Regions from separate parts of the Homo sapiens genome. Here regions 2, 3 and 4 are each linked to region 1. Evidence: fine-mapped expression QTL. A gene starts in region 1. Each other region holds a variant in brackets. All regions are shown on one strand. Distances are from middle to middle.

Region 1 (7,551 bases):
CCATTCATATGAATATCAGAAGCACAAAATCAGTATATTCATAAATCCACAATGTATACTTATGCTAAAAAGTATTTTTTCTCCCAATTTTATCTAGTTCACCTTCTACAATTTTTGTTTAATGCACTTGCAAAGCTGTAAAGAAGCAAATGTTGTCTCCTCTGCTGCACACATATCCAGACAATACATCAATCTCTTGGTATTTTTCCACAATTTGAAACCAAAACAACAAAATTCATTTCTTACCTGCAATTAGGAGGAGGATCAAGGGTTATTTCAGCTAGCTCCTTCTGAATTCTGTTAGTGAAATGAGAAGAGACAAAAAGGATTTGATATAGTCTACAGAATAACCAGGGAATTACACTGCCCTCTACCACCATGCAGTTAAATGCAAGGCTGGCTCTGCCTTCAGTAATGCTAACATGGCTGCTTCCTCTTTGTTCTCAGAGGCATAACCCAAATCCCTTAACAGAAACTTTGCAGCTTTTTTTCTCACTTGCTGCTGCAAACAAGTAAGTCATTTACACTTGATTGGAGAAATACTCATCCACTAGTACTCAGTAAAGAATATAATATCTATTTCAAAACACTTTTTACCAAAGAAATTCTCTTTTCAAGCTTATATGCAAATGAGACAAAAAGGGAGGAGGGAAAGCACTGGAATATTTGACAAGGACTTGAAGTGACTTTTACTGAGGTAAAAATTAACAGGCTACTGCAAGAGCACATTAACAGTTCTGACAATATTTTATCTGTCAAAAAAAAAGTTTAAAATTTACAAATATCTTTACTTGTGAAAAACTTTCAAAGACTACTTGACATTCTAATTTAACCATTTCTGTTTTCCCTGATTTTAGGTACAGCACTTAAATTTAATAAACATTGAGAGAAAGAGGAGAAAATACATAGGCCTGAGTTAAGGGGGAGAAAAGCAGTTCTCTGATTTGATTCAAATTTAAGATGATTTCAAAACTTTAGATGTGTCTAATATGTTCCGCATCAACACTATACCAAATTGAGAATTTTAAATTATGTCAAAGACTGCTGCCATTCAAAAATATTATCAAGTTATTAATACTTCATTACTGAGACAATAAGGGTGAAAATCCATAGAAAAATATGAGTATTTATGAATCACCACAGAATGCAATATTTGATCAGTTTTTATATTCTTTTTCCTTTAGTTATCAATAAAAATTAACAAAATGTCAAAATTGGTTAATGCTGTAAACATTATACATTTTATGTATAATTACTAGAGTTTGTGGATATTCCACTACTACTACCACTGATAAGAGTCTCATTGACAGAATCTTTTTTTCTCCATCAGAAAACATCAATCAATAGGAAACAAATGATCTTTCACTTACATCCAATTAAATATGTTTCTCCTGCTGTTGAGTATTAACTTGTCAAGCACATCCACAAGTTTCAGAGTGAAGAGGCCCAAGGACAATGCAAGTTTTCTATCACTAGTGACACCTCAAATTGTAAAGGGCTACTTTTCAGTTTGATTTGCCCTCACAAGCACAGGAAGGGATAATCATAATTTAACCAGGAAAGTTACCTGTGATATACGATTGAAAGTCATGTTTTGTAAAACTGTAAGCAGATTTGCAGCACAATTTTAAATCTGCTTTCAAATATAGCAAAGGCCTGAATTTGCAAATTTTCTAGCAAATATGATCATTTCTGATCATTAAGTTTCATGAAGAGAGGCACTGCTAATCTCTGGAAGTGTCAATTTCATTAAAGAAGATTATGACTCATAAAAGGAACATCCCCAAAGTACCATCTAATTTGGGTTCACCAAATTTTCCTTGCCAACTCCTTAAACAATCTGTCAGAATGTTAGTCTAATCTCTACTCAAGGACACTCTTAACTGAAGTTACCGAAGTACAGAATTAAGTTTGCTTAAAAGTATAATTCTAGTAATGTTGCTTACATACCACCTAAAGAATGACAACTCATTCAAGTACAATTAAACTGATAATGAAGTAAATATTTCTGAACTACTGCTATTGAGGTAAAACCAACAAAAGCGTCCAACCACCTGGAAGACAACCTGACAAAGTGTGCTGGATCCTTCTTTTACACATTACCTTTTAGCACTAGTGGATAACTTAGCAGTGGTTTTGCTAGAGAGTTTGGTGTTTTTCTTCTGCTGGGTGGCAGAAGGTTTTCTTTCCTCTTGTTCTTCAGGCTCTGGAGCGGCTGGGTCTCGCTGGTCCGCATCTGAACTGCCACTGCTGGTGCTGGGGCTCTCATCATCGGACCTTTGCCTATCACTGGACATCTTGGTGAAGTTATCTCTTGGAAAACTTTTAAAGAGAACAGGGGAGGAGGAGGAGAAAATGTTAAATCTAGGAAATAAACCAACAGCATTTTCTTCTAGTCATCTAAAATCGTCTTGTAATGAAAAAGCTTCAAAAGTGTTCACACTTATTTCATCGTACAACAGGGGTACGTACAAGGGAGGTGATGTGTCACACAACGCCAGCGTTAAGGGATTTGCCGAACTCAAGTTAGAAAACCCACTCACATTTTTTTCCGTCTCTTGGACAATCTATCAATTGTCTACTTTCTCAGAAGGCATGAAACAGATTTGCCAAGGAACTTAGGCAACAAGCATTAATAACATATGACACACTGTAAATAACAGATCTCGCTGAAAAATGTTTAAAAGTCACTAATAACGTCTAAATATTTACACACTGACATTGGTCAAAGCTACCAAATTCCCTTTCCGAGAGGAAAACACACCCTGTTAATCGCCCATATGCTTATTTAAGGTGGCGATTCCTCCTCAGTGCACGTAAAGCCTTTAAACACAACACTTGGAAATTTAAAAATCAACTAACGAGCTGCTCTAGCTGTTTCCACGGCCAGCAGCGAAGATTCATCCGGCCAAGACCGAGCTGCCACCCTGGGAAAAGCAGAATTCAAACTGCACCTTCTGCAAAGCTCCCAATGCCACCAAGGTTCCTCGCTCAATTTTTATATCACGGACCGACATTTTGTCCAAAATAACGAAAAAAATAAGAAACCCAGAGAAAAAACAAACAAATAAACAAAGCCCCAAGAAGTGCAACAAATTTCCGCGCCCGCGGAGGCGAGCCACGGCCGGCGGCGGCGGCCACGCAGCTCCGCGGCCCTTTGTGGGGAGGGCCGCGCGGGGGCCGCGGGTAGCGCTCGCCGCGCCGGGCGCCAAGTGATGCGAGCAGCCCAGCCGGCCCCGCCGCGGCTCGCGGACACCGGCGACGCGGGCGCCCGGCGCGAACAAAGCTGCCCGCCCCCGCCCCCTCCCCCACCGCCGCCGCCGCCCCGGCCGCCCCCCACGCGGCCCCCCGGCCCCGCCGCCTTACCTCGGCCGCCCGCCCGGCCCGCTCGCGCGCCGCTACGGTGTGGGGGAGGGAGAGAGAAAAAAACCCTTCCTTAAGGAAATGGAGGCAGCTGTGGGGGGGGGAAGGGGGGGGAGGGAAAAAAAGAAGCCGAGGAGGCTCTGGCCGGGGAGTGTGGAACATTGAAAGTCGGAGGGGGTTGTGCAGTGCCGGGCTCCGGCCGGAGGGTGGCGCCGCCCAGCGCCTTCGGAAAAAAGCGGGGGTGGGAGCTCGGCTGGGCGAGGGCGCGAGCTCCCGGCGAGGCGGAGGGGACGCGGGAGACCCCCGCGCGCTGTAGCCTCCCGCCGCCGCCGCCCGGCTCGGCTCCTCCCGGCCGCGCAGTCAGCAAGTTCCGAGGCGAGCGCGGGGGGGAGGGGCGGGCGCGGCGGCGACGCGCGTGCTCGCTGCTTGCCTGGCGGAGGGGCGCGCGCCGCCGACGCCCGGCGGGCGCGAGCTGTTCCCGCGCGCTCCCGTGCGCGCTCTCCACACCTCCCCTCACCCTGGGGGTGCACGCGTCCGCCCGCGCGCGGCCAGGACAAAGAGCGCGGCGGGGACCCGGCGGGCTGGCCCCTGCCGCCCTTGGCCGCGGAGCCTGTGCCAGAGAAGGCGGGGGCGCGGGCACCGTATCGCGGGGCCGCTGTGCCGCGGGGTGGCTTCCGGCCTGGGCCCGCCTCCGGGGCGAGGCTGCCCATTGGGCTACCCGCGTCCCCAGGGCTGGTTCCATCCCATCCGCCTGCGCGGGGGCCGTCGTGGCTCCCGGGGCCCCAGTACCTGGGCAAGGGCCCTGGGCGCGTGGTTGGGAGTCCCCCGCCGCCCCGGGAGACGGGAGACTAATGGGTGTTGTTGACGAGGCCAGGCACGCAGGCGGAGAAGAGCTGCCACTTGCCCCTCGCGTAAGCTGGAGGAAGGGACAAGTTGGGGTCCTGGGAATTGAAGAGGGTAGAATGTATTTGGAGATTAGGGGAACAACCTCTATTTCTTTTTGGCTCATAGCTTGCAACTGTCGCTGCCAAAGGGAAGTGTCCTTCGGATTATTTGAAACCTTAAAAATCCAAAACAGTGTTTAAAATGTCCCGCTCAACATTCTTAAAAGTGAAGGAGAAGAGTTTGGGGTTGGGGGGTGGCGATGAGAGCTAAAACATGACACTTTTCTGCGGGACTCTTCTGTCTTGCACATGAGGAGCCAGTTCTGGAAAGAAAAGTTCTGAGTGATGTTGAGTCAGAATGTCCACCCAGAAAAGCTTTAGGTGGAGATAGTGACAGTTTTGTTTGTTCTACCATTCTTTTTGCAGTCTCCAGGTGGACTCTGCGGTTTTTACCCCACGGCACAAAGTAGCCAGAATACAAAAACTTCCTGTTTGCCACCCAGGCCTTCTCCAGCTACTGAGAACTTGTTCCGGTGATGGAGCCTCAAAGGAATTTGTGGATTCCTCTCCCACAAGTGTCCAGGGGCAGGGGTGCTGTGAGAATGTGCAGTTCACAAAGGGAGTGAGAATGGCAGTCAAAAGATGTATAGAGTTAAGGGAAAGAAGAAAAGACTGAGTGAGCCAACGTATTTGCTTACTATTTCTCCTAATAGAAAACTTTTGGTAAAGGCTTGATAGCAACTCTAAAGAGTAAGTTACATTTCCATAATTTTCCAAAGACACAGTCATTCAGTTAACTTTATTGAGGGCTATATGTTGCTAGGTGCTGGACATACACTCATTCAATTGCTGTGTGACTAAAGCCAGGTCTCTACTCTGTGCTAAGAGCTCCTAGTCCAGAAGGGGAACAGTTCATTAAAGTTCGCTAGGTTCATAAGTAGTAAGGATATTCCACTCAGAATGAACAGATAGAATATCTCATGCCTCAAAAAAGATCATGGTCTGTGTGTGGACAAGCATTTTGATTTGGCTGGGTCAAAGAGTGCTTGTGGGAAAAGCTTGTTAGTGAAAATAAAAGCAGAATTTTCCCCCAGCTTTACACGATGTGATGTTACAGCAAAAGCCAGCCAATTTGGAGTTGAAGCTTTGCTTTGTTTGGAATGGGGAGACAGAAAAGGAAAGCTGTACGTTAAACATGGGTTCTTTTAGGAAATTTAAGAACAGAAATAGCCTGAAGGCCCAAAGGCCAATTGCTGATAGGATTTAGTGGGGTAAGGAGCTTAGGGGAGAAAGATATTTAGTTGTTTGGTAACATCTTCTACAGAAGAAATAGTATTGGGTTGAAAAGCCAGGGAAGTGTATTCTAATCCTCATTCTACGAAGTTCATATGACCTCAGGCAAGTTAAGTTATTTCAATTACTTTTATGTAAAAGGAGATTGTATCAAAGGTTCTAAGTCCTCTCCTGCTCAAAAATTCCATGATTCCGTGATTCTTTGGCGAACTTGAAGTCATGGAGTTTAACTTAACATTCACCCAACAGAATATTTAGGATCTACTAACTGCTTGGGAAACTGGAGTGAAACATGGGTCATGCTCTTAACCAAGCTCAATTGTGCAGTGGGGCAGCCAGAAACGTAGCCTGCAGAATGAGAAGTGCTGTATTAAAGAAGTAAAGAGAATGAGAAAAGAGCATTACTAATCATCAATTAACTAATAATGGAACTATTAATTCAGGTTGGAATTGTGGGGCATGAGGTAAAGGTCAAAGAAGGAAACATTAGATTGGTCCTGGAGAGAGCACTAGGGCCAGTGATAATGTAGATAATATAGATAATGCTCTTGGCAAAATACCTGGAATTTGGGTGTTCAACAAATAATACCTATTGTTAAAGTCACCGTAAAGATAATGAATGGCTCCATAAGGTTAGGGGCAGTAGTGCCCTGCCCCTACAATGTGAGGTGCCTGGCTGCCTTCATTCAGCTGACTCAAGGGGTTGCTCAAATGATTTCAGCTCACAGCTCCTCTCCCAGGTGACTTGGCATCACCTCCACCAGAAGTAACTTGTAAGGTGTAAATTGTTTCTAATGTTTAGTTCTTCCTTGTGTGACAACCTGTTTTGTAATTATTTTTTCTCTCTTGTTTTTGCTATGTCAATCCTTGAAATTAAGGATCATGTTTCACAGGCACTCTTGGAAGCATACAAATTTGACCTAATGCAATTATTTCATAAAATATAAAAAGGGCCCTTTTCCCATAAGGTCCCTCAGAATAGTTCCACAAGCAGACACCAGCTACCACAAAGAAGATTGTTTCCTCTCAGTCTCTTTTATTTTCTCTTGTTGGTGTGGGGTCCTGCCAGCCTCTCACAACCCTGAGAAGGGCAGTGGTAAGAGGGAAGATGCCGAATCCAATTGCAGTATTACAATGATTATCTCTTATCCCCTTATCCACCAAATGTTGTGACAAAAAGAGGCCTGCCTAAGGGCAAATAAGGCAGACCCCAGAATCCTTTGCACCTCCCTAGTTTGGGAGATGCTTTTTCCTGCGCCTTTCAATGAGTCTCAGTGTTATCTGTGTACATAACTGTGAGTATGTATAACTAAGAATTTCACAGGATCTATCACTGAGTTACCTAAGAAGTTTCTGAATTGAATGATTATGTAAGCTGGGGTATAGACCTCTACTTATCCACCATGACCAGCAGCATCCCTCACATGTAAAAAATGTAGAATAAATATGAATTTATTTTGTTGATTTTAAGGTACTTTGTTTCCTTCCAGTCAATAACTTTTCTAAGAGTCCCTTCATTTTTACTGGCTGTTTCTGATGCTTTCCAGTTACTTGTATCCTCAGTTCTCTGGCTAAGAAATTTTCTTTCTCTACCCATAAAGACTGGATTGGTTTACTAGGAAGGTATTTCTTGGCTCAGCCTTAGTTTACACAGCCTTGTTTGTCATTGTTAGTCCCAGTGTCTTTGGACCCCCAGAATCCAATGTGCCGCTTGACATCTGGGTGCACTTCCACTGCATCCTGAGGGGAAAACCTGCTGTGTCCTACACCAAGGGCTGGGCCCTGGAGTTGGAAAGGTGCATAAGCCTTGGTTTGACGTCAGATAACTCAGTGATTATTTTCTGTATTTCTCTTTTGAGATAACTCTCAGGGAAGGTATATACCAAAAAAGGCTCATGTCATGGTAAGGAGCCTGTACACATGAAACAAAACCGTGAGCACCTTAGTATGTCAAAAGGCAAAAATTTTTAAAGAAATATTTAACATTATAACAAAAATGTAGTCTTGCTAG
Region 2 (7,551 bases), 42 kb after region 1:
TCTTTCTTTGTGTGTCATGATGTTGCCATTTTTTAAAAAGTCCAGAGCAGTTATTTTGTAGCTTTTCTCTACCTTTGGGTTAATCTGATGTTTTCTCATGATTAGGCTCATATCAGGCATTTTGGCAGGAATACTCCAGAAGTCATGTAGTGTTTTCTTTGGTCCATGATACCAGGGGGCACATGCTACTGTTTTGTGCTTTTACCGGTGGTGTTTCCTGTGATCACTTGGTTGAAGAATTGCTCAATAGGTTTTTCTAGTGTAAACACGCCATTTTTCTCTTTTTAATTTATAAGTATTTATGGGTATATGTTGAAAGATACAAATATTTGGGTACCCCTCAAACTTTCACCTAATCATTTTAGTATCCTATAATGATGTATACCTAGATCAATTATTAGTATGATGATTGCCAAATACAGATTTTCTAATTCCACCATTTCTTCTACATTTATTTGTTTACTTTCTATAAGAAAGATTCTCATTTTTAATCTATTTTTTTCTTTGTGTTAGTATGGAATAATGGATTTTAATTTAATTCAAGAAAAAATATTCTATGAGGATTTATTAACATAATATTAACAAATACAATATTTATTAAGATATAATTTTTTGGTGCTCAAATTATATCAGATATAGCAAATGAGACTGCTTTAAGTTAGCTTACATGTCCCTTTGACATAGCTTGATCATTTTTAGGACACTTTCCTAGTTTCTGATACAAGATGGTTCAGGCTCATTCTCATTGTCCCAGCTGTGGAATCAGCCATTTTTCTGAGGAGCCCTGGCTCCATTTAGTGGAGAGTAACATTTCAAAACCAGAATCTGTGTAGTACGTATGTGGAACACCACACTTTGCTTTTTATCGTTTTGGTGTTTAAGCATCATTCTTAATAATAAAGAATTATAAATTATTTAAATGTTTATTAGAGGAATCAGTTAAAGAATTTTTGTGTAATTGAATACTATACAGCTGTTAAAAATAATGAGGAATCTATTGTAGTGATGGAAGAGGATCTAATGTATATTGCATTTGCGAAAAATGAGTTAGTGAACAGTTGATATAGTTTATTTTAAATATTATGTATAAGTAAATGTTCATTCAAACAGAAAAATTTTAAAATCTGAAAGTTTACACACCAAAGTACAATATTTTTTTTTAACTTCTGTCAGCAGGATAAGAAATATGGTGAAGTTTTCATTTCTTTATAGCTTCCTATAGCTTTTTTATATAAAGCATTTATCTTTTTAAAATTTAAACACATAAATCTAAATTCAAAAAATACAAAATAAAACAACAAAAACAGTATGGGTGGCAATGGCTTACAAAATAATAAAATTTATGAGGAAGTTAGGGAAATGACCTCATTATACCTTAGTAAAATTGCTAGAATTAGTCCTCATTAGTCAATTAGTTTATAATAATTGCCTCAGTCAGTAATCAATTTTCTCCAAGTCTCATTTAGTAGCCTCATCAGTTAATTGCTTTCATCTATAAACAAATTTTCATTTAACTGGGCAAAAACTTGTCATCATATCTCCATGTCAACGCTAATCAATGCTTCTAGGGTGTGTTTCACATCCATGTGGCCCACTCCTGATTTCAGCTGAAGCTATGAGGGGTGGTTCCATGCCAGCTCAGACTCACCCTGTCTTGGCAGTGACCAGCCCAAATCACATGCAGCATGCTTCCACACTCAGCCAGGGAATTCTCCCCGGAAGATTAAATGCTATTTTGTATAATGTGCTCAAGGAAGGACTTCTGGTAAGATGATATTTCAGTAGACACTTGAATTAAAGTGTGCAGATAGCTTGGGAATAACCTTTTCCAGGAAGAAAAGCAAATGCAATGCCTGGGGTGGCAGCATGCCTCTCTTATTTGAGGATCAGAAAGGAGGCCAATGTGGAGGGTAGTGATGAAGGACAGGATGAAAGATAAGATCCTAGAAGAAAAAGAAATCGTGAAGGAGAACAAGAGGTTAAGAGAAGGGTAGGATAATGAATATGGAGTTTATCTTTTGAGTTCAGATGAGTGAGATGATTTAACTTCTATTTTCAAATGATCCCATTGGCTCCCATGTGTGGAGTATACAGTGCCTAAAAACCAGGTGGAAGGGTTTCAGTAGGAGCCTATTGCAATAATCCAGATGAGAGACTGAGATGGTTGAGACTCTAGTGATAAAGGTGGAGACAGTCAGACTCTGGGTATGACTGGAAGGTAGAGTTCACACAGTTTGCCTATGGGATATGGCTCGTGAGAAAAGAGATGAGGCATGGATGATCTCAAGGTTTTTGTGTAAACATTGAGAGAAAGGAAATTTCTATACTGATAAAGAAAATATGAAGATAATAGAAGACTTGACAGAAATTCACATGGTAGGTTTTCTCATGTTAAGTTTGAGGTCGTTATTTGACATGTAAGAGGAGAGGTTGAATACATGAGCCTGGAATTCAGAGGAGCAGCTGATGCTGAAGATCACCTTTATGAGGTTCACAAGTTGTTCATTTGTGGTTAGTATTTGAAGTCATGGAACTGAATGAGATTACCTAGGATATAATTGTAGAGAATGTAATGGAGAGGGGTCCCAGGATTGACTCAGGCACACTGTATCATTAAGATTCAGCTTTCTTATTTTTGTCTGGCCTGCTGACATGCCATCCAGACTGAGGAAGACCCAGAAACTTTTGGGCTATGTGAGCCACGGCCACAGCTGCACTGTAAAAAAGTAAAGCACTGGAAGCACCCAGGAGGCCGTGGTAAGGCTGGTGGCATGCATCACACAGGATCAACTTTGACAAATATCACCCAGGTTACTTTGGGAAAGTTGGCATGAGGCATTACCACTTAAAGAGAAACCAGAGCTTCTGCCCTGCTGTCAATCTTGACAAATTGTGGACTTTGGTCAGGGAGCAGACATGGGTAAAAGTTGCTAAAAACAAGACTGGAGCTGCTCCCATTGTTGATGTGGTATGACCTGGCAATTAAAAAGTTCTGGGAAAGGGAAAGCTCCCAAAGCAGCTATTATTGTGAAGGCCAAATTCTTCAGCAGAAGAGCCAAGGAGACGATTAAGGGTGAAAGAGGTGGGGTGGGGGTGTGGGGTTGGGGTCTTGGTGGCTTGAAGCCACATGGAGGGATGTCCATTAAATGCTAACAATTGAAAAAGAAAAGATTCAGCTTTCTGATAAGACTAATCTGCCAAGCCTTAATAGATAGATTGGAGCTGTTGCTGCTCAGGATGTTGCTGTTCTTGAAGAAGAGAAAAGACACATGGCAAAGCATGAGCTGGCTCTTAAAGCTTGCACTCATAACACACACACTCACTTCTGTTCT[C/T]ACTTCATTGGTCAAACCAAGTTTCACAATCACTTTCAAGTGCAATAGGCAGGGAATGTATAATCTTCCCACAGGAAGGGTTCTGCAGTGATGAACATTGCAGGGAGGGAAACAAGAATATTTGGCAAACAGAAATGTAGTTCACTAAAGAAATAAAGATATGACATTGGAAAGCTTTTGTCTTTCTTGTCTAATATAATGACTGTAAACTACTGAATTTTTTTCTTTGCTTTTCTCATCATCTGATGTCTTTCTCCATTTATGCCCAAGGAACTATGTCTCAGCAGCCAAAGTTCCTAATTAGTCTTTTAATTTCTTCTTAGAGTTCATCCCAATTGAGAGTAAAGGCGATTTCTAGAGCTGGAGCCACTGACATTTCTTGTCATTGGAGGGTTCTTATCATGGGATCCTCCTGTACAATAGTTCTTTAAATTTTTTCCAGTTGAGGACCTTGCTATTTAGGTTTACTCTCATCTAATACCACTTATTCCAGACCTAAGCTACCATTAACCTCTGCCTCTATCTCTTCTTTGAATCCTCTGATGGAATTTTTAAAGAAGCCACAGATTTTCTCATAGTTGCAACATAACAAAAAGAATACATGATGTGTTTAAAATTGAAGGAGATCTGCCTTCACTGATGTTCTGGTTCACTGATGTCACTACCTAGCCTTTCACTTGAAGCAAGTAATTGACCTTCAAAGATTTTTCTCATCTGTAAAATTGAAATAGTTACACCTACTGTATTAGTCTGTTTTTACACTGCTATAAAGATACTACCCAAGACTGGGTAATTTATAAAGAAAGGAGGTTTAATTGACTCACAGTTCTGCAAGGCTGGGGAGGCCTCAGGAAACTTACAATTATAGTAGAAGGGGAAGCAGGAACGTCTTGCATGGCAGCAGACGAGACAGCTCATGTAGAAAGTGAAAGGGAAAGAGCCCTCATGAAACCATCAGATCTAGTGAGAACTCACTCACTATCACGAGAACAGCATGGGGGAAACCACCCCCATGACCTAACCACCTCCCACCATCTCCCTCCTTTGACATGTGGGGATTATGAGGATTACAATTCAAGATGAGATTTGGGTGGGGACACAACCAAACCATATCATCTGCCTGGTAGCACTGTTCTGAGGATTGAATTAGACAGCACATGTAAGGTGCTTCATAAATTCTAAAGAGGAAAAAAGTTGGTTCATGTGGTTGTCGCTATCATTCCAGGATGAGTTAGGAACACACAGTCATGCATGTTATTGATTCTGGAATGAGAGAAATAGGAACAGGTCTTATGAGGCCCTAATATGTTGCTTTTATTAATATTTTCTAGTGAAGGTATTGCATGATGAAATAAATAGATCGGAATCTTCTAACAAGCTTGTCTGGAATTACCATACTGAGTACACAAAGGATCTCACCATAATAAAATGAATTTCTCCTTGTCAAGGTTCTAGTTCCTTGTCTACCACTGGGTAGAGTGACTCTGGTAGAAGCAGCCTTTATGTTGGCAACCTAGTCTCTGGTTAGCATCATAGTAACTGGTAAGCTTCTGAGGTAACTAACCCACAATGATAGGGGCTTATTTCTTCATATTAGGATTCAGCTTTCTGATAAGACCAATATGCTAGGCCTTAATGCACAGAAAATGCCAGCTCCTAAAGATATCAAGTCTGCATGTATTTGGAATTTAATAATTTTTATACATATCTTCAAATTTTCCACCACATGAAATAATAATTCTAAGATATTGGCATGCCAGAAATAATAGTAATCAAACTTCACTGAATAACATTTTATTTTTACAAAGACCTTTTCCATCCCATTTGGTGCTGCCAAGGCATTATCTATACAAAATGTGTATGGATTGGGAAGAGTATTTCCACAGTTTTTTTGCTTAAACCAAAGAGGAAAACATCTGGTCAAACCCATTTATCACTACATTTTCTCTGTAGTATGAAGGTATTCTTGGCCATATTCTTGGCTAATTTGTTCTTGCCAGTAACTCAAAGGGTATAAAAAATGTAATAAATTAGGAAAGAACCGAAATTCTAAAATTTCAGTAAAAACACAGATACACCTCTAACTTAGAGACTCTAAAAATGGAATATGGTATGTAATGGGTAAGAGATTTCCTTCTTTTTTTGAACAAATTTTGAGGGTTGGAGATCTATAAAAGATGAAATTTAAAAAGAAATAACTCAAAGAAAAAAGAAAATGAGGAAGCATTAGTAAAAAAAAATCAGTATCGCTGTATAAAGAGTTTTCTGATTCATCTCTTTCACTTTAAGAGACGCAAAAAAAGAAAGAAGAAACTCAAAAATAATCTCTAATTGAAAAGAGAAACACAAACATCTAGAAATAATGTCAGAAAGATTAAAACTCAGAATACATTTGAGAGTTTGAAAAAAAGTTACTAAATGCAGCCTAAGTGACTTCTTAAGCTATGTTGGGAGCAGGAAGAAGAGTAAAAAGAATGCCTTAGACTCTACATTGGAGACAAATGATCTCAGGTCTCTAGAAGTAACAATATCCAAAACCTGTTTTGATTTCATATTTGCTACAAAAGGGCAAAATTTCCAAATAATAAGACAAATCAAGTTAGAGAAGCAATCATAGACCAATATATGTAAGGAGGTAATCAGAAAATAACTAAAAATGAATTTGAGTCTCTATATGCAGATAAAGATTCCTGTCAGGATGGCAAAGAAACTTTCATCAATTAGCTACTATCTCCTGTTTAGCAATATTCCAAACCATCATAGAGTCTTGTATAGGTTTCTGAAAGCTTGGCACCTAATAATGTCCTTCTTCCAGAAAAATATGAACCTATCTATCATGAAATGGTAGAACAAATTATTATGTAAAGGACTCATATTTAGAGAAGAATATACATTTTTACATGTCTTTTTAGGATAAAACATTCAAAAATATGTTACCATATTTTACCAGTTATTAGATTGGTGGGAGTGGAATGTTAAGATTGGTGTATAATGTTTTCAGAAAAAAGAATTACCTCTCATAATAACCTTATGGATATGCTGGTTATGTAAGCAGAATCATAGCCCAGAGATTACTTTTAAATGTTGGCTTGCTTTGTTTATCAGGGACATAGTGCATGTCAGGTTAAAGGATATTGAGAACCTTCCTTTCCTCCTAATGCTGTCTGGATTTCAATGGTAGTTCGTGGTGGTAAGATAGAGCCTACTTTTTTTCCTCAAGGTAAGCATGAGTCCTGCTGGTAGATGCAATAGTATAGAGGAGGAAGAATTGGATTATGTTCTAGTCTTAGCTGTGCTGTTTGGTAGCTGTATGACCTTGCAAGTATCCCTATCTGTAAAACAAAGATAATAATGCCTGCAAGTCCATCTTATAGGTGGCTGTGAGTTTACATAAGACTGTAGTATTAAAAGGCTTTATAAAGATTATCTAAGGACAAATATGCAAGATAAGGGTATCACTCATATCTCTGTTTCAATCTGGAATGCAGGCAAACAGGGAAGACTGGAGAGTTCCTTTCCTCAATCCCTACTGATCAACACTTTCATCAGTGGAAATAGAAGACATAATTATTAGATTCTAAGAGCTTGGCAATGGTTGACTCAAGATTCAAAATTTTATTGCCCAACTTTATACTTCCAGGCAAAAATATCAGACCAAAACAACAAGATGAAATTTGGCAGGAATAAAAGTCTGCAGTCTAGACGTGGAAATGCAAATATGTAAGTACAAAATGGGAGGAAAAAGCAATCAGACAGCAGTTCATGTGAAACAATCTGGAGTATTTAGTTGACCACATGGTTAATAAGAATATTATGGAAAGTGTAAATCCCTTCATTCTGAGATAGTCAGATAACGTTGGCGCAATCCCTGGAATGTACTAGATACATGGAAAAGTTACTTTGCTCAATTCGGCACCCTCTTCCCCTTTAATTCAAGAAAGACATCTACAATCTGTTATGGGACTGGCAGATGCTGGCAGTGTCAGAAAACTATGATCTATGGGAAATGTTGAAGGAACAGAGACAGGTTAAACTTAGGAATCAGACTAGTGGAAAACCTTAATAGCTGTCTTCAAATATCTAAAGGACTGTCAAATGTTGTTACAGGGATTATTTTCACTGTGTCATTCCAGAGAGCAGAGCAGGAATCAGCGGGTGAAAGCAAAAAAGAAGGCATATTGTTGGCTCAAAGAAACAACTTTATGATAACACCTCAATC
Region 3 (7,551 bases), 370 kb before region 1:
TTACCACTGATCAAACTCGTTTACATGATTCTATGTGTTTTATACTTAGAGATCCCCAAATAATTCCGAGTAGCAGTTTTATGGAGATTTACTATAGACTTCATCACTGAAGTGGTTTTTACCCTGTTTGCTCATCATTTCCATTTCTACTCTGATTACATGTTGAAATTCATTCTCCTTTTATAAAATCAAGTCAAAGCAGACATATACACGATTAGTTTTTGACTGAATCTCCATGAGAAGAACACTATAATGGCCACATCATAAAACAATGAATAGCTAAAATATATCAGGATTGCTTCTTAGGAATAAGTGCCTAAGAGCTTTGTGTACTTAATTTCAATTGTAATAATACTAATTGATAATTACTATTCTGCCCATTTTACCAGGAAAATAATCTGGTCTCAGAAAACTAAGAACCTTAGCCAAAGTCATCAGCAAGTAAGTTATACAAGCAGTATTGTGTCCTTGAATCTATACTTGTAACCACTGTGCTGCTGATTAGACAAAATAGCCATACCAAGCTGCTAAAGAAACTATTATGTTGTGTTTCCTTCCCAGAGCTCTTCTTAGCTTTAGTATTTTTAAAGATTTAAGTAGTAGAATGACATATCTAAATATAAAAGAAATTAAAATCCCTGTATTAACATAATGTGACTAGACATATTGTATGTCATATGCCTCTGATATTCATAACTTCGCAAAAGGTGCTAGGTATCTATTGTCATTCAGTTCCAGTCTTGGCATATTTTTCCAGTGAAGGGGCAGAGATCTCTCCACTCCAGTGTTCTATACTAAACTTTCATTTTTTTTTTTTTTGTGAGCCCAGACCAGAATCCCACAGACAGCATGAATGATGATTCATTCATGTACTCAGCAGATACCTATTAAGCAACTATTTGGCATGGAGACTGTACCAGTGAACAGATCATTCTTACCCTCCTGAGTTTGTAGTCCAGTAGAGAAGACAGATACAAACATGTACGTGGACATCAGTGTTTTAATGGCAAAGTACATACAACCATGGCTAGGTTGGCTTTCCTGGAATGGTGACGTAAAAGCTGAGCTCTCCAGTCTCAGTAGGAGTTAGCTAGATGAAGGTGGGAAAGATGTAGGAAAAGGGTAGAAACTATATTGAGAAAACTGAACATTTGAAGCTTCAAGGATGGAAAACCGTGATGTTACTATGGTCTGAAGTAGTCTGGTATGGTTGGCACTAGGACATCCAACCAAGAGAAGAAACCGGAGAGGTAATCATAATCCTAATAGCTGATATTCTTCTGGAATCTACCTATTTTAAAAAGTACTATCTCATAAAATATTCATAACCACCCTAAGAGGGAGATATTATTATTACCTCAATTTTTCAGATGAAATAACTTGATCATGGTCTTATCCAGTGAGTAAGCGGCAGAGCTTTGAATCAAAGAGCTCCAGTTCCAAAGCTCACATCCTCCACCAGCAACCACCGCTGCCTTCAGATCATGATGGGCCTTGTAAGACATAATAAGAACTCTAGTGTTTATCCTATAGGTCAGAATTCTCAAAGTATGTTCCCCACCCAAGACCTACTGAATTAGAAACTCTGGGGCAAGGCCGAATAATTCATGAGTTCGAAAACCCTTCAAGTAATTCTGATGTTCAATAAAGTTTGAGAAACTGTGCTAAGGGCAATGAGAAATCCTGTAACATTTTAAAGCAGAGAAATATGACTTAACCAGATGAGATTTTCTGAAAGCTGATCATTCTTTCCACAGGTGATCCCTTCAGAATGAAGACTCAAGCATCCTCATTGCTGCTCTGCACCCACAGTTACACACTGACTCCCCTTGAGTTACGGAGAATGAAGTTAAGAGTAAAGGCCATCCAAAGTGGTAGGACTAATGAGCTACGCAGCCTTCTATTAGGGAGCCCTAACCTGACTGCTAAATTGAAAGAGATAAAAATATCCTTTGTAATCTGATTGCAAGAAAGTGTCCCTAATTGGATGGTTGTGACTTAGATAAATTTTAATTTATTAGGCTTGCTTAGTTTTATGGGCAAAAAGTGTGCATATATAACAGTTGTTGAAATTTATCTTTCTCTTTGAATGAGGTATATTTTTCACTAGGAATAGTTGCAGTAATAATAATGACTAATATATGTACATATACTTCTTAATTTCAAAATATATTCCATGTATCAGAGTTACATAAAATTTTCACTTTTCTAGAAAGGGGCCAAATCATAATATGAATAAAAATATAGTAACTCTACCTTATTCACTGTCAACTAAAGAAAGAGTGCCACAGAATAGTAATCTTTAATTTGTAATCATTTTGTTTCTTTTCAACTAAATTACCCCCATTTCATTAACTTGTAGTAAAGTCTTCTTGCCCTACCAGTTTTTTTAAAATATTTTAATGACCTTTAATAATACTTTTAAGTATCATATTTATACTACTATAATTATATACTGAAATTTCAATTACCCTAGAAACCAGAAATTGTGAAAAACTTTTCTAAAAAGTAATGGTTTAAAAGTTGATTAAAATCACCAATATGAAAATGATTAATAGTGTACATTTTATTGAGGATATATTTGAAAATCTAACAGAGCCAATGACTAGTTTTTCATTTAACTTGACCTTGAAATACTCTTAAGGATACAAAATAAAAAGGACTTTGTCTGATGCCTGCCTCTGCCCCAAGGTGTAAGCAAAGAGAGACTTCCAATTTTGTCATATGGCCAGGGTTCAACATTTCAACATGCTGCACTTTATTTTTAATTCAAGGGAGAAAATATAGGCTTTAAAAAATGTATACAATTTTATATTAATGTCTTCTTGTGTTTTGTATTTAATGAGTCAATATCTCTTTAAGCTAACCTAACAATTTGAAAAAAAAGGAATTTTCATTCTCATTAGCTCATAGATATATACGATAAGCCAAAGAGAAGTGACCACTCAAGGCCACACATTTGCTTTCTTCTACCTGGAATACTCCCCACTCTCTCTCTCCTTCCTCCCACCCTCCCTTCCTACTAGCTCTTCATGACTCAGTCTTAACACCATTTTTTCAGGTGACCCTTTCCAGACTACTGAAATCTATCATCCCTTTCCCACCAAACCAGGATAGATTCCTTTAAGCTCCCATAGTTATCTGTCCCTCTTTATCTGTCCAACTTTTGTAATAGTTGGAATTAAAATAGTAAAAAATAGTAATTGAATGTCTGCATCTCTTCTAAGAGTGTAAATTCTAGTAGAACAGGAAGAGACACTTCTGACTTGTTCCTCATTATATCTTCAGCAAGTAGTATTGTGCTTTGCATAGAAGGGCTTCAGTAGATACTAGTGGAGGGAGGGTGAGAAGCGGGGAGGAAAGAGGGTAGGAGGGAAGGAAAGAAGAAAAGAAGGAAGGATGTTGCAAGATAAGAGCTCCAACAGAAAAAAAAAAGCACATATTTGTGTTCTAAGCTAAACTTTCATGTGACTAAATACCACTGTATTTGGCTACATGAACTCAAAATATGCTGGCTTAACCAACACCTCCAT[G/A]ATTAGGTGAATTATTATATGTTTATTAATGATAAGTGAATGGAGACATAGTTATTCACTTAAACACAAAGTGAAGTGACTAAAATATATTTTGGAAATCATCACATGAAAAAGGATATTTCTGAAGGAGACACATGGCATATACCTCAGAATGGCCAGAGAAAAACCACTTAGTTGTGGGAGAAATGGTCTAATCCATCCACACCACTGAGATGGATCATTTCCAAGTGGAGGCCTCTCTGATCTGGCTGTGGCTCCTGAAGGAGACATGCCTAAGATAAAGTGAAATGGGGATTGTGGAGAAGACACCTGTGTCTACTTCATCTGCCTGTTTTTGCCTAGCTCTACCAAGAGTGGACATTGCTTTCTATTTTTTCTTAGCTCTAAAATCAACTCCTGGAAGTTTCTGCCAAAGAGTCAACTTTTCACTCAAAATTTTGAGAAGTTTTACTAATCATCTATCAACCTCATTCAACAAATACTTACTGACCACCTACTGTGTGCCAGATAGTGTTCTAGATATTTAGGATATCTCGGGAACAAAATAGAATCAATAGACGTGGAGCACTGTTCTGAGACTGACAATAACTACTAAATATATAAATAGTACTAAATGACAGTAAGTACCAAAATGTATAAAATGTGATCTCTGCTCTCAAAAAGTTTACAATCTTGAATGGGAGGCAGGTAATAGTTGATAAACATAAAAATGGTGACCTACCACAAGGTAGCACATGAAGACTCAAACCTTTTAGATGTTGAATAGATGAGTTTTTGTCAGGGAAGAGACAACTTTGAATGTGGGGGTCAGGGGAAGCTCCACTAAGGAGCTAAGTCTTGAATGGGGACTCAGAGCCAAGTTTAGAAAAGCAGGGAAGGAAACTTGGGGAGAAAAGAGAAGTGTGGAGGCTCTCTGGAATCTCATGTATAAGAACTTTTCTTGAAAATTGTGTACTGTCTACATTTACCAGTTGAGCACCTGCTGTGTACTGAATAGTATAATAAACTGTGTGGTGTATGCCGTCAAAGAGAAATTGCACTCTCCAAAGTTTATGAACAAATAAGGAACTTAAAAAAATGTACATTAGTCACTAAACTACAAAGTAGAAAGTTCAAAGAGTCATAAATAAGAGAGGTGCTGAAAAAGTTCTATGGCAGTTTGGTGGAGGGAGACATTACTAATAGCTAGTGATCAGAGAAGACCTCATGGAAAATAGTTAGCATTCAACTGGGCCTTAAAATTTATGAACATGTGAAACGGAGAAAATGACTTAAACACAGAGTCAAGAAAGGAGCCTGATGGACTAGCAAAGAAATCAGAAATGGGAAAGTCATTTAAAAGGTTATTGCAGGGTTGGTATAGATGAAAAAGACCAAAATATTTTTTGACTGATTGACTTTAACTAGCAACACATACTTTCTTATTCTTCTACTATCTCTTATAAATTATTTCATTATAATATTTGAATCACCAAGTCATAATATGCAATTTTCTTTATTATTTAACATTTAGCATTTCCATCCCATTAGGAATTTTCTTGCTTGATTTTTATTTATTTATTTATTTATTTATTTATTTAATTAATTTATTTATTTGGACAGGGTCCTGCTCTGTTGCCCAGACTTGAGTGCAGTGGCTCCATCTCGGCTCACGGCTCACTGCAACCTCCGCCTTCCAGCCTCAAGCGATTCGCCCACCTCAGCCTCCTGAGTAGCTGGGACGACAGGCACATGCCACCATCACTGGTTAATTTTTGTTGTTTGTGTTGAGGTGGAGTTTCGCCATGTTGCCCAGGCTGGTCTTGAGCTCCACAGCCTCCCAAAGTACTGGGATTACAGGCATGAGCCACCATGCCTGGCCTGAATTTTTTAATCTTTAGGTATTTTTGAGTCCACATTCCATCATCAGATTTGATTACTGTCATCATGACTATTTAATATTATTTTTATTATTACAACCTGATTTTTGACATACATTTCCTTAAATAGTGGTTAATGCTCATTTTAATCTATTTTCACCTTGTCTGTTGAAGCCCCTGTATCTGCTTCATCACTGGGCCCACCTAGACTTAGTATGTTACATATATAGTTCTAATGATTTATTTTAAGCTGTACTGTATGTGGCGAGTTATTTATGTTAAATAATCAGAATAAAACAGTAAAATATAAAACACTGCTAGAATTGTATTCCAGCTATCTTATGTTCTATTTCTGATAGTTACACTAAAGAGAATTGTGTAAATTATCCTCCTGGTTCTCCTCCCTGAGGTCAACTTCAAAAGGTTAAGGATATACTCATAGTAGTATAGTTGTCCACAATAAATTCTGTCTACAAAAGGGGCTGAGTGTGTGCTACCTAAATGTTGGTGTGTGGTGTGAGAGTGACCTTGACCATGTGTGTAAGCAATTATTATTATTATTATTATTTTTGTCAGCGCACTAAAACTTTTGCTGGTCTCACAGTAATCATATTCTCATCTGTTTATGTCCACAATGGCAGGATATTTGACACCCAGAGCCAAAGTGGGAGGGACTGAGCACAGATTGAGCAGAGGTTTTGGTGGCAGAGGAGCTTGCTGCCTGAGTCCCCTCTGCCTCCTTTTAGCCCCAACTACTCACAGCAGTCCTAGAAAAGCTAAGGCAAAGAGTAGAGGAAGATATAGGATTCCCCACTCTCTTCTGTCTATCCATTCTTTAATTTAAAAAAAAATATTCATTGATTATCTACTTTGGGCTGAGGCCATAGCATGAGTTAAAAAACTTCTGCCATGAACCTTGACTGCATATCGTTTATAATTGAGTGGTGGTGACAAATATAAAATGAATCATTATAGGAGTCATTATACCATTATAATTGTGTCAAGTGCTACAAGGTGAAAGTGCAGAGTGCTATAGGAAAGCAAGGATAGAGTGCTATGCTTAAGCAGCAACCTGTTCCCCAGAACAGAAGAAAATAGAGGCAGTTTTGTTTAAGCATAATGATTGTCAGAATAAGTGATAAAATTTTATTTTCTTAGAATAAGTGTGATATAGGTAAAATTATAACAATGGCAAAAAATTTAGAAAACTGGTGGCTATTTAATAAACTATGCACAAAATCTTGTTATTCTAAAGGATGACAAGGAATCCATGGAATTTCCCCCTATAATCTTTTAATAGTACATATTCCACACAAAAGAAGGAATTTTCATCTGAAATCTTATGCACCTGTGTGGCTAGTCAATTATTCACAAAACATCATGGATCTGATATATATTTTCCCTACTTAATTTTGTTAGTCAATTTGTAATGCTAAATAAAATATGCACGAGAACCTTAAATTTAGCATGGCAGATATTTTCTGAACATTCACTTATTCACTTACTGTGGGCTATTTAGAAAAATCAGATGTGCACACTGATCATCTTAGCACATGTCCATCTGTCATCTAGAATTGCCAATAAATATATTGTTTAAATAGTTGTGGTTAAGAATAGAGACCCTGAGAATGAGAGAAGCTAGGAGTAGGTTATATAAATAGTCACAGAGCTACACCAAGATAACTTCCAGGTCAGCCACAAAATTATAATGACAGGAGTAGCCCTTGATTATTTGTTCATTTGCTCCATTTCTATGGATTCTTGAGGTACATCTTGTTGTATATTATTTCTAAATAAATGAGAAAAGGGGAAGTTAGTAAATGCACATCACTGGAACCAACTTAATCTCAGAAAAAAAAAAACTCTGAGTATAAAAAAAAGTCTTTTTTTTTTTTTTTTTTTTGTAGAGCAGTTTTAGGTTGAAAGCAAAACTGAGAGGAAGGTACAGAAATTTGTCACATACTCCCTGTCCCCACCCATGCATAGCCTCCCCCATTATCAACATCCCCCACCAGAGTGGTATGTTTGTTACAATTGATGAAAATACACTGACACATCATTATCACCTAAAGTCCATATTTTAAATGTGCACAGTCACACAGGATGCATGTTTAGACAAATGTATAAGAATGACATGTATCCATCATTATACTTCATAC
Region 4 (7,551 bases), 540 kb after region 1:
TAATAGTATAAGTGACTTTATTTCGAAGAAAGTTAAATGTAAAACCACAGCAAGCCTGTTATGTGTGGATGGGGGAAATGTGTGAGTTTTCTGGGAAAACCCCAAAGTTGTTGTGATACCTAGCCAATGTGTACTTATAGAAGCCAGGAGAATTTGCATAGAAGTGAATTCTGGGCCGGGCATGATAGCTCACGCCTGTAATCCTAGCACTTTGGGAGGCCAAGGTGAGCGGATCACGTGGTCTGGAGATCAAGACCATCCTGGCCAACGTGGTGAAACCCCGTCTCTAATAAAAATATAAAAATTAGCTGGGCACAGTGGTGCATGCCTGTAATCCTAGCTACTCGGGAGGCTGAGGCAGGAGAATGGCTTGAACCAGGGAGTCGAGGTGACAGTGAGCCGAGATCACGCCAGTGCACTCCAGCCTGGGCGACAGAGCAAGACACTATCTCAAAAAAAGAAAAAGAAAAAGAAAAGAAGTGGATTCTGAGGATGTTTGATCAAGAAGACCAGAACATTAAATTAGCTAGCAAGCACTTATCGACTTTGGAACGCTTTCTCCAGATGCACCCTAGCAAAGATTCCACTACAGTGTGAATTCACTACTAGGATAACTCCTATAAGCATAGAAAAATGATGATCCATTCTGAGATCAGTTGAAATGTCAGAATTGTCATGGCAGACAGTGAAGAAAAGAAATCAAGGGCTCAGGGAAGTGGGCATCCTGGAATGAATATATCACATAAGGTTGGAAAACCACCACATGATTACATTCCATAGGAAGGCCAAGAAGACACACTATTTGCCAAGGACACAGGAATGCAGTGATAAGAGGTGTACCAGAAAGTTTAATGGTGGCTTTCCTTTTCAAGTCAACGTTGACAATAGGAAAGCTTGTTACATAAATTGGCTTATTGACAGCAACAGGGGTAACAGGACCCCAAAAAACATAAAAGTAGGTAGCAGCATTTAACTTCCGAAACCAAAGGATTGTAATCATTATAACAATTAGGCAGGTCAGGGTTGCACCCAAGAGAACCTGAGCTGAAAAGAGTTATGGAGGTAGTTAATGCAATACAATATCCCAAGTGTCATAGAAATGCATAACCAAAAATGGTACTATCCTAGTTCTCTGGCCCTGTGTCATGTGTGTAGGAGAATTTAGATATCATGTAGAATACCAACTGACCCATTTCACTGGTAACTTTTTATTGGTTGGGCCAGATGAGCAAGCGGTGGCTGGTATACGTGAGGCCTCAATAAGTCATGCGTGCTCTAAAGGGAAGGAAATAAATTTTAGGGACTACCACAACCATAAAATGTTTAGGGGTTCAATGGTTAGAGGTGTAGCAAGACATCCTCTCCAAAGTAACATACAAATTATCATAGCTTGTACATCCACCGTGGATAAAGAAGAACCACACTGGTAGGCTTTTTCCATCTCTGAAATTGGTGCATTCCACATCTATATTCAGAATGATATAAAAGACTGTCAGCCTTAAATGGTGTACAGAGAAGTAAAGAGCTCCACAACAGGTCCAAACTGCTGTGCAGGCAGCCCTCGCACTTGGACCATATGATCTGGCTCGCTCTGTGGTGCAGGCAGTATCAGTGGTGTGAAAAGTTGTCATATGGTAAGTCCAAGTGGAAGAACCACAAAGTAGATCCCCTGAAATTTTAGGGCAAAGTCTTGCCATCTGCAGTGCACAATTATACATCTTTTGAAAAATAATTCCAGGCAGGCTAGTGAGCTGTGGTAAAAATGAAATGCCTGACTATAGTTCACCAAGTGAACATGTGGCCAGAACTGTCCATCATTAGTTAACTCCTGTGAGACCCACCAATTTATAAGTTAGTGTAGACCCAGGAGCAACCCATCATAGTATGAAAGTGACTATGCAAAAACAGGGTTGGAATCAGCCACTGAACCCTTCCCTCAGCTGATTTTTATAGCTGTATGGGGGATCTTGTATGACCCATTGAAGAAGGAAAATACTTCTAAAAAACATATTAGGTATAGTGTACCTGTTCATTAATTTTGGATAAAATTAGTGAAGTTATAATGTATTCAGACTCTTGGGCAATGGTAAAAGGCCTATCTGACTTTTCAGGATTATGGAAGGAAAACAAAGTTTGGGGATGAGGAGGCTGTGTTAGATATATGGGATGTCTATTAGATGGATATATATGGGATGTCTATGAAATGGGCATATGGGAATGGGCATGAAATGGGAATATACATGTCATATGTCAATGCTTACAAAGGAATATCAATCACAGAAGACTCTAATCAACTAAGTACACAAAATAACTCAAGCAGTTGGTGTCAGCCAACCTCTGTATTCAACCTCCCCAGTGTTGACTAAGAGAAAAAATGAATTAAGAGACCACAGTGGCAGAAAAGGAGATTATGCATGTGCCAATGCATGGACTCCCACCTTTGAAGTCCAATTTAGCTGCTGAATTTCTACCCTACCAACACCAGATATCAGTGTGGAGCCCTTGATGCAACACCATTCTTCAAGGAGTCCAACCAGTCGTACAAGCCACCTCCATTATGGAAGTGCCATTCTTTTATGCTCACAGGACTAGATTTAACATGTATTCCAGACATGAATTTGCTTTTTCTGCCCAAAAGCCTTAGTCATCATTCTAGCTGAGGGATTATGAAATTTCTGATCCACTAATATGTAATCTAACACAACACTTCCTCAGACCAGAAGACCATTTACCACATAGGAAGTGCCACTGTGGGCCCATACCATGACATTCACTGGCTGTATCACAAGCTCTCTCCAGATGCTGCTAGTCTAATAGAGCCTTGGAATGGCTTGCTAAATGAGTAGCTAAAGCCCAAATCAGAGGCAGTGCTCTATGAGGTTGGGGTGCCATTCTCTGGATATGCAGTATTCACACTGAATCAAAGGATTTTGTGCAGCTTTGTGTGTCTGATAAGAATGCAAGGGCTCCAGAACCAAAAAGTAGAAGCAGAAATGGCTCCTGTACTACAGTAAATAAAGATCCTTGAACTTGGTGCTTCCTGTCCCTGCAACGGTGCTTTGTAGAGTTAAAGGCCCTGATCTATAAAAAGGTCACAATTTCACCAGAGGACAAAATAAAAGCTCTGTAGAATTATTAGTATGACTGTTGTCTGGAGATTTGGGGGAAAAAAGGAGTCACCATATCAGCAGGAGTAACTGAGTTAAATCATTAAGGGTTAGGACTGCTGCTATACAGTGGAGACAGTGAGAAATACATGTGACACTCAGATGATTTGGTTGAGTGCCTCACAGTAATCCCTTGCCCAACTGTAAGTGTAAATGGACAGATCCAGCAGTGCAGGCATGAGGAGGACATGGTAACCATAGATCAGACTTCTTGGGGAGGACAGTCTGAGTAATGCTACCAGACACATGACCAAGGACAGCAGACATAGTGCCTGATGGTGCAGGACCTAAAATGACTAGTATAGGAGAAATAAAGTAAATAGCAATATTGGTCCTGAGATCAACCATAGCAGAGCAACTGTAGTTAGTTCTGCTAATTTCCTTCTTTTCTATTTCCCCTAAGGAAAAGTGGCCCACCAGAATCCTGGAGGAGCTGTTACTCAAATATATGTGTATACAAATGACAAAACAGGTAGACTATGACAGATATAGAGATGTGCCACCCAAATCCTCCTTCAAGTAAGGACTTGCTGCCTTGGGGTTGCCTCAACTGATTAGTCATCTACTGCTGCTTACAAGCTATCCCCAGAATTTAGCAGCTTATAAAACAAGAATTTTATCTCAAATTTATGTGCATCATGAATTAGCACATGGCTTCGCTGGTGCCTCTCACTCAAGTCCTGTCCAGGATTGTAGTTCAGCTATCACCTGGGGGCTGCAAGTGTATCTGAAAGGTCTATTGTGTGTGTTGGTGTAGAGGGGCTACTTCCAAGCTTACTGATGTGGTCCCTCAGGTTCTTCACAATGTGAGCCTCTCCAGTGGGCTACCTCACAACATGGCAATTGGCTTCCTCAAACTGAGTGATCCAAGAGAAGGTGTGAGAGGAAGCCTCACCCAAGATCATGGCCTTTTTAGGACATTCTGTGACTGAGACACATTCTGTGACTGAGTAAGCCCTGGCTAGAAAGGCCCAGACACTTCACTCTGGCATGGGTCACTCTGACCAATAATACCTTGAAGCTCCATGACAGGTTGGCCCAAGCATCGTCAGGCATACATGAC[A/C]CTCAAATTCTTCCTCTGGCCAATCCTGCTTCCTCTTTTCTTTGTCTCACAAGAATTGAGCCCTAATTTTGTATTTCAAAGTCTATCTCTGTGTCTGCCCATGGAAAACCCAATCCTTTTCCTTCCTGGATAGTAAAATTCACTAGGGGAGGGGAGTATTTTATTAATTTCCTACCCTGGCTGATTGTTTTCCTTCTGGGAATCTCCAAGTCCTCTGATATGGTTTGACTCTGTGTCCCCACCCAAATCCCATGTCAAATTGTAATCTTCAGTGTTGGAAAAGAGGCCTGGTGGGAGGTGATTGAATCCTTTGGAGTTCCCCCTTTAGAAGGGATGTCCCCTTTGTTGTTTTCATAATAGATTTCCAACCAGATCTGGTTGTTTGAAAGTGTGTAACACCTCCCCCTTCCCTCTCTCTCTCTTTCCTGCTAGCCATGTGAAGATGTACCTGCTTTCCCTTCACCTTCCACCATGATTTTAAGTTTCCTGAGGCCTCCCCAGAAGCAAAAGCCTGTACAGCCCACAAACCATGAGATGATTAAACCTTTTCTAATACTCTACTTCCTCGTCACTGGCCAGATCTAGAAACTAAAGGACAGGAAGGGCCGTTCTCTCCCATACCACAGATGGTCTTGTTCTATTTTTTTCAAGTTGGAGGGTACCTCCTGGCCTTATATGTAATTTGTGTGTGTGTGTATGGAGGTGATAGAGAAATTGGGGAGAAGTGTTCAGAGACTTTCCTGGAATTAAGGAGTCCATGTTACTCTTACTAATTTACCCTAAAGACACAAACAACTTATAGTTTTCTTTTCTTTTAATTTTACCAAACTGACGTACTAAACAAATAATGTTATCATATTAGAGGTTTTCTCATAAAAGTGCATGGAAATTGTTAGGAGGCATATCCAATGAAACAAATAACTTGGTTTTATTTTTGTTTTTGTTAATAATCTAGTGATTAAAAAATTTTTAAATTTGGAATGCACATACTACTTATGTTCCATCTAAAAATATATATTCTTCAATAAAATAAGAATTCTCCAATTCTCTGAAAAGTACACAAATGATCAAACACAGTACATACAATTTAGAAGCAGAAGCATAATAAAAATGCAAATTAATTCAAAGGTCCATAATGAGATCATTTGGCCATATGGCCACTAATGAAGTTTCTAATTGCTAGAACATCAACACCCAAGTCAGAAGGCAAAGAGGAAAAATTCTACTGTCTTTTAATTTCCTTAAAAGATTTTGAATTTTAAGAAATATTTTCCATATCTGAAACATTTTTACACCAAAGTGTATTGAAAACCTTGCACTACATGGAGTTTAAAAAAAAGTTTGAATTGTAAATAATTCTCCATGCTGTAGGATGAATAAAAAATTAAAATGTTTTATCCATAATTTAGCATACAAAATGTATGCCAACAGGGATTCTATAATGAATAAAATTAATTTATTCATTCATCCAAGAGATTAATTAGCATCTATAATGTGCCAGGAACTGTTCTAGGCACTGGAGAGATACAGCAGCAACCAAAACACATATAAACCCCTGTCTTCATAGAGTCTTCATTCTACTCAGGGAGACAGAAAGTGAAATAATACATTTAACAATAATAAAACTAGTACATTAAATAGCAAAAAGTTCTAAAAATAAAAATAAAAGCAGAGGAGTGATATGAAGAGTAGGTATGGAGATATGTAAATGGTGATGTTTAAATTCTGTGTTGAGAAAAGATCTCACTGAGAAGACAACTTGAGTTGATTTGGGCTTCCTCCTGGGGAAGAGCCCTCAAGGGTGGAGGCAACAATTGCAAAGTCCCTGAGGCAGGATTCAACCTGGCACATGTAAGAAATAGCAAGGTAGCCAGTGTGGCCATTGAGGAGTGAAGGAGGGTAAAGTGTAATGAATAGGTTCTGAAAAGCAATGGGGAGGAGGGGAAGGTCATATATACCTTTAGGCCACATTGGCTTTACTCTAAGGGAGCAGAGAAGATTTAGAAGGGTTTCATGCATAGATGACATGGCAGGATCTTATTCAGGCTTCAGCAGAATCACTCCAGTTGATGTTATGAGTAGTAAAAAGAGGCAAAATTAGAACCAGGGAGGCAAGTTCAGAGCTATTGCAATGATAAAGGTGAGAGATGATGGGGACTTGTCCAGGACGATGGCAGCAGTGCTGGGGACAAGTGGTCATATTCTGTAGTACACAGGATTTCCCAAAGGTCCAGATTAAATGGTGTGGTTTTTAGTGGTAAAAACCATAATACTAAAATATCTGTACTTGCATTTTATAAAACATGATTTATAAAAAATCATGGTGCTAAATTTGTCTGTGACCTTTACTATCTGTTGGCTTGTTTTGCTCATTTTAGCAGAGACATATTTCTGAAGTTTAGCACTTAACACTGGCCTGTAGATGATGTCTTATTAATGAAGCTTTTGATTATGTCCTAGTTTGATATTGAATAATAAGAATAAAATGTTCAAGAATCTATAAACTTTTGACCTATTATCATGTTAAAGATGGTCCTTGGAGGAAAATACTATTGAATACATTCTTCACCCGAGTCAATTCTAGGTAAGTAGAAATTAACTGTTAGCTGCCAGTTAAGGAGCAGAAAAGGGGCAGGGCAGAGAGCTGACTGTATTTACAAGGGGCATTTACACATTTTTACTAACACAACTACCCTCACCCCTCAAAGGTGGAATCTTTGACTCAACGATTGTTCAAATACCCAGCAAAATTTTGCTTTACATTAAAATCCTCATCATATTTGCAGAATGATCAAACTTTATTTTTCTGATTGAAAAGAACCAATACATGTGACAATCTATGACAACTCTTTGTGAAGTAACCTAAGGACCCTTAAAGAGCCTTAAATATCCAGCATTTTTCTCTAGTATTCTTCTGCTAGTTTTCTGCATGTTTTCCCTTCCCTTTCCTCTTATTCTCTCCTGTCCCTGGACTCTACCCATGTACTATTCCTCAGTGCTCAAGTGACGCTTCCTCCATGAAAAATTCCCCATTTTTTTCCAATCAAAAAGGAATCTTTTCCCCTCCTCTCCTACCAGTGTCTATTTCTTTTGTTTCTCTCTTTGCCTTTTAAAATGATTAGTATCTTCCTTCCCTTTTCAATTCCTACCACAGCCATTATAATATAATCTTTCTACTCTCCAGTTTCCAGAACAGTGCCTTGTGAATGTTTTTTGATTTTATTTCATATCTAGTGGGCCTGTGTTTATAATTAGATCTAGCCAAAAATGAATGCCAATTCTTCAAACACTTAGCATTGTGGTCGATATTAGGAATATTAA

Direction of the effects. Alleles are on the strand shown, and positions count from the first base shown. SD is a standard deviation of normalised expression in the study named. Not every link is listed here.
For the expression in gastroesophageal junction of the gene that starts at base 3,735 in region 1, A is the high allele of the variant in region 3 and G is the other (small effect, 0.32 SD a copy in GTEx).

Evidence for each region. PIP is the estimated chance that this variant, and not a neighbour inherited with it, causes the effect. A credible set is the group of variants that fine-mapping cannot tell apart.
Region 2: its variant is the best candidate, but not a certain one, in a credible set for the expression of UBE2E3 in lung (TOPMed, PIP 0.58).
Region 3: its variant is the best candidate, but not a certain one, in a credible set for the expression of UBE2E3 in gastroesophageal junction (GTEx, PIP 0.76).
Region 4: its variant is the best candidate, but not a certain one, in a credible set for the expression of UBE2E3 in whole blood (INTERVAL, PIP 0.55).

The regions. Positions count from the first base shown.
Region 1 is chr2:180,976,789-180,984,339 of GRCh38, reverse strand. It overlaps UBE2E3 (ubiquitin conjugating enzyme E2 E3), which reads right to left and starts at 3,735. Exons shown (of 6, transcript NM_006357.4): 1 at 3,367-3,735; 2 at 2,104-2,322; 3 at 247-297. The coding sequence starts at 2,297. UBE2E3-DT (UBE2E3 divergent transcript) reads left to right here and starts at 3,328. Exons shown (of 2, transcript NR_187176.1): 1 at 3,328-4,274; 2 at 4,674-7,010. RefSeq lists a silencer at 3,458-4,317.
Region 2 is chr2:180,934,400-180,941,950 of GRCh38, reverse strand. It overlaps the pseudogene RPL27AP3. Among named protein-coding and RNA genes, the nearest start is that of UBE2E3, 42 kb to the left of the region's middle. The variant C/T (reference allele first, on the strand shown) is at 3,333.
Region 3 is chr2:181,348,150-181,355,700 of GRCh38, reverse strand. All of the region lies in intron 3 of LINC01934 (long intergenic non-protein coding RNA 1934), which reads right to left. Among named protein-coding and RNA genes, the nearest start is that of MIR4437, 46 kb to the right of the region's middle. The variant G/A (reference allele first, on the strand shown) is at 3,534.
Region 4 is chr2:180,439,201-180,446,751 of GRCh38, reverse strand. No RefSeq gene overlaps it. Among named protein-coding and RNA genes, the nearest start is that of SCHLAP1, 250 kb to the left of the region's middle. The variant A/C (reference allele first, on the strand shown) is at 4,231.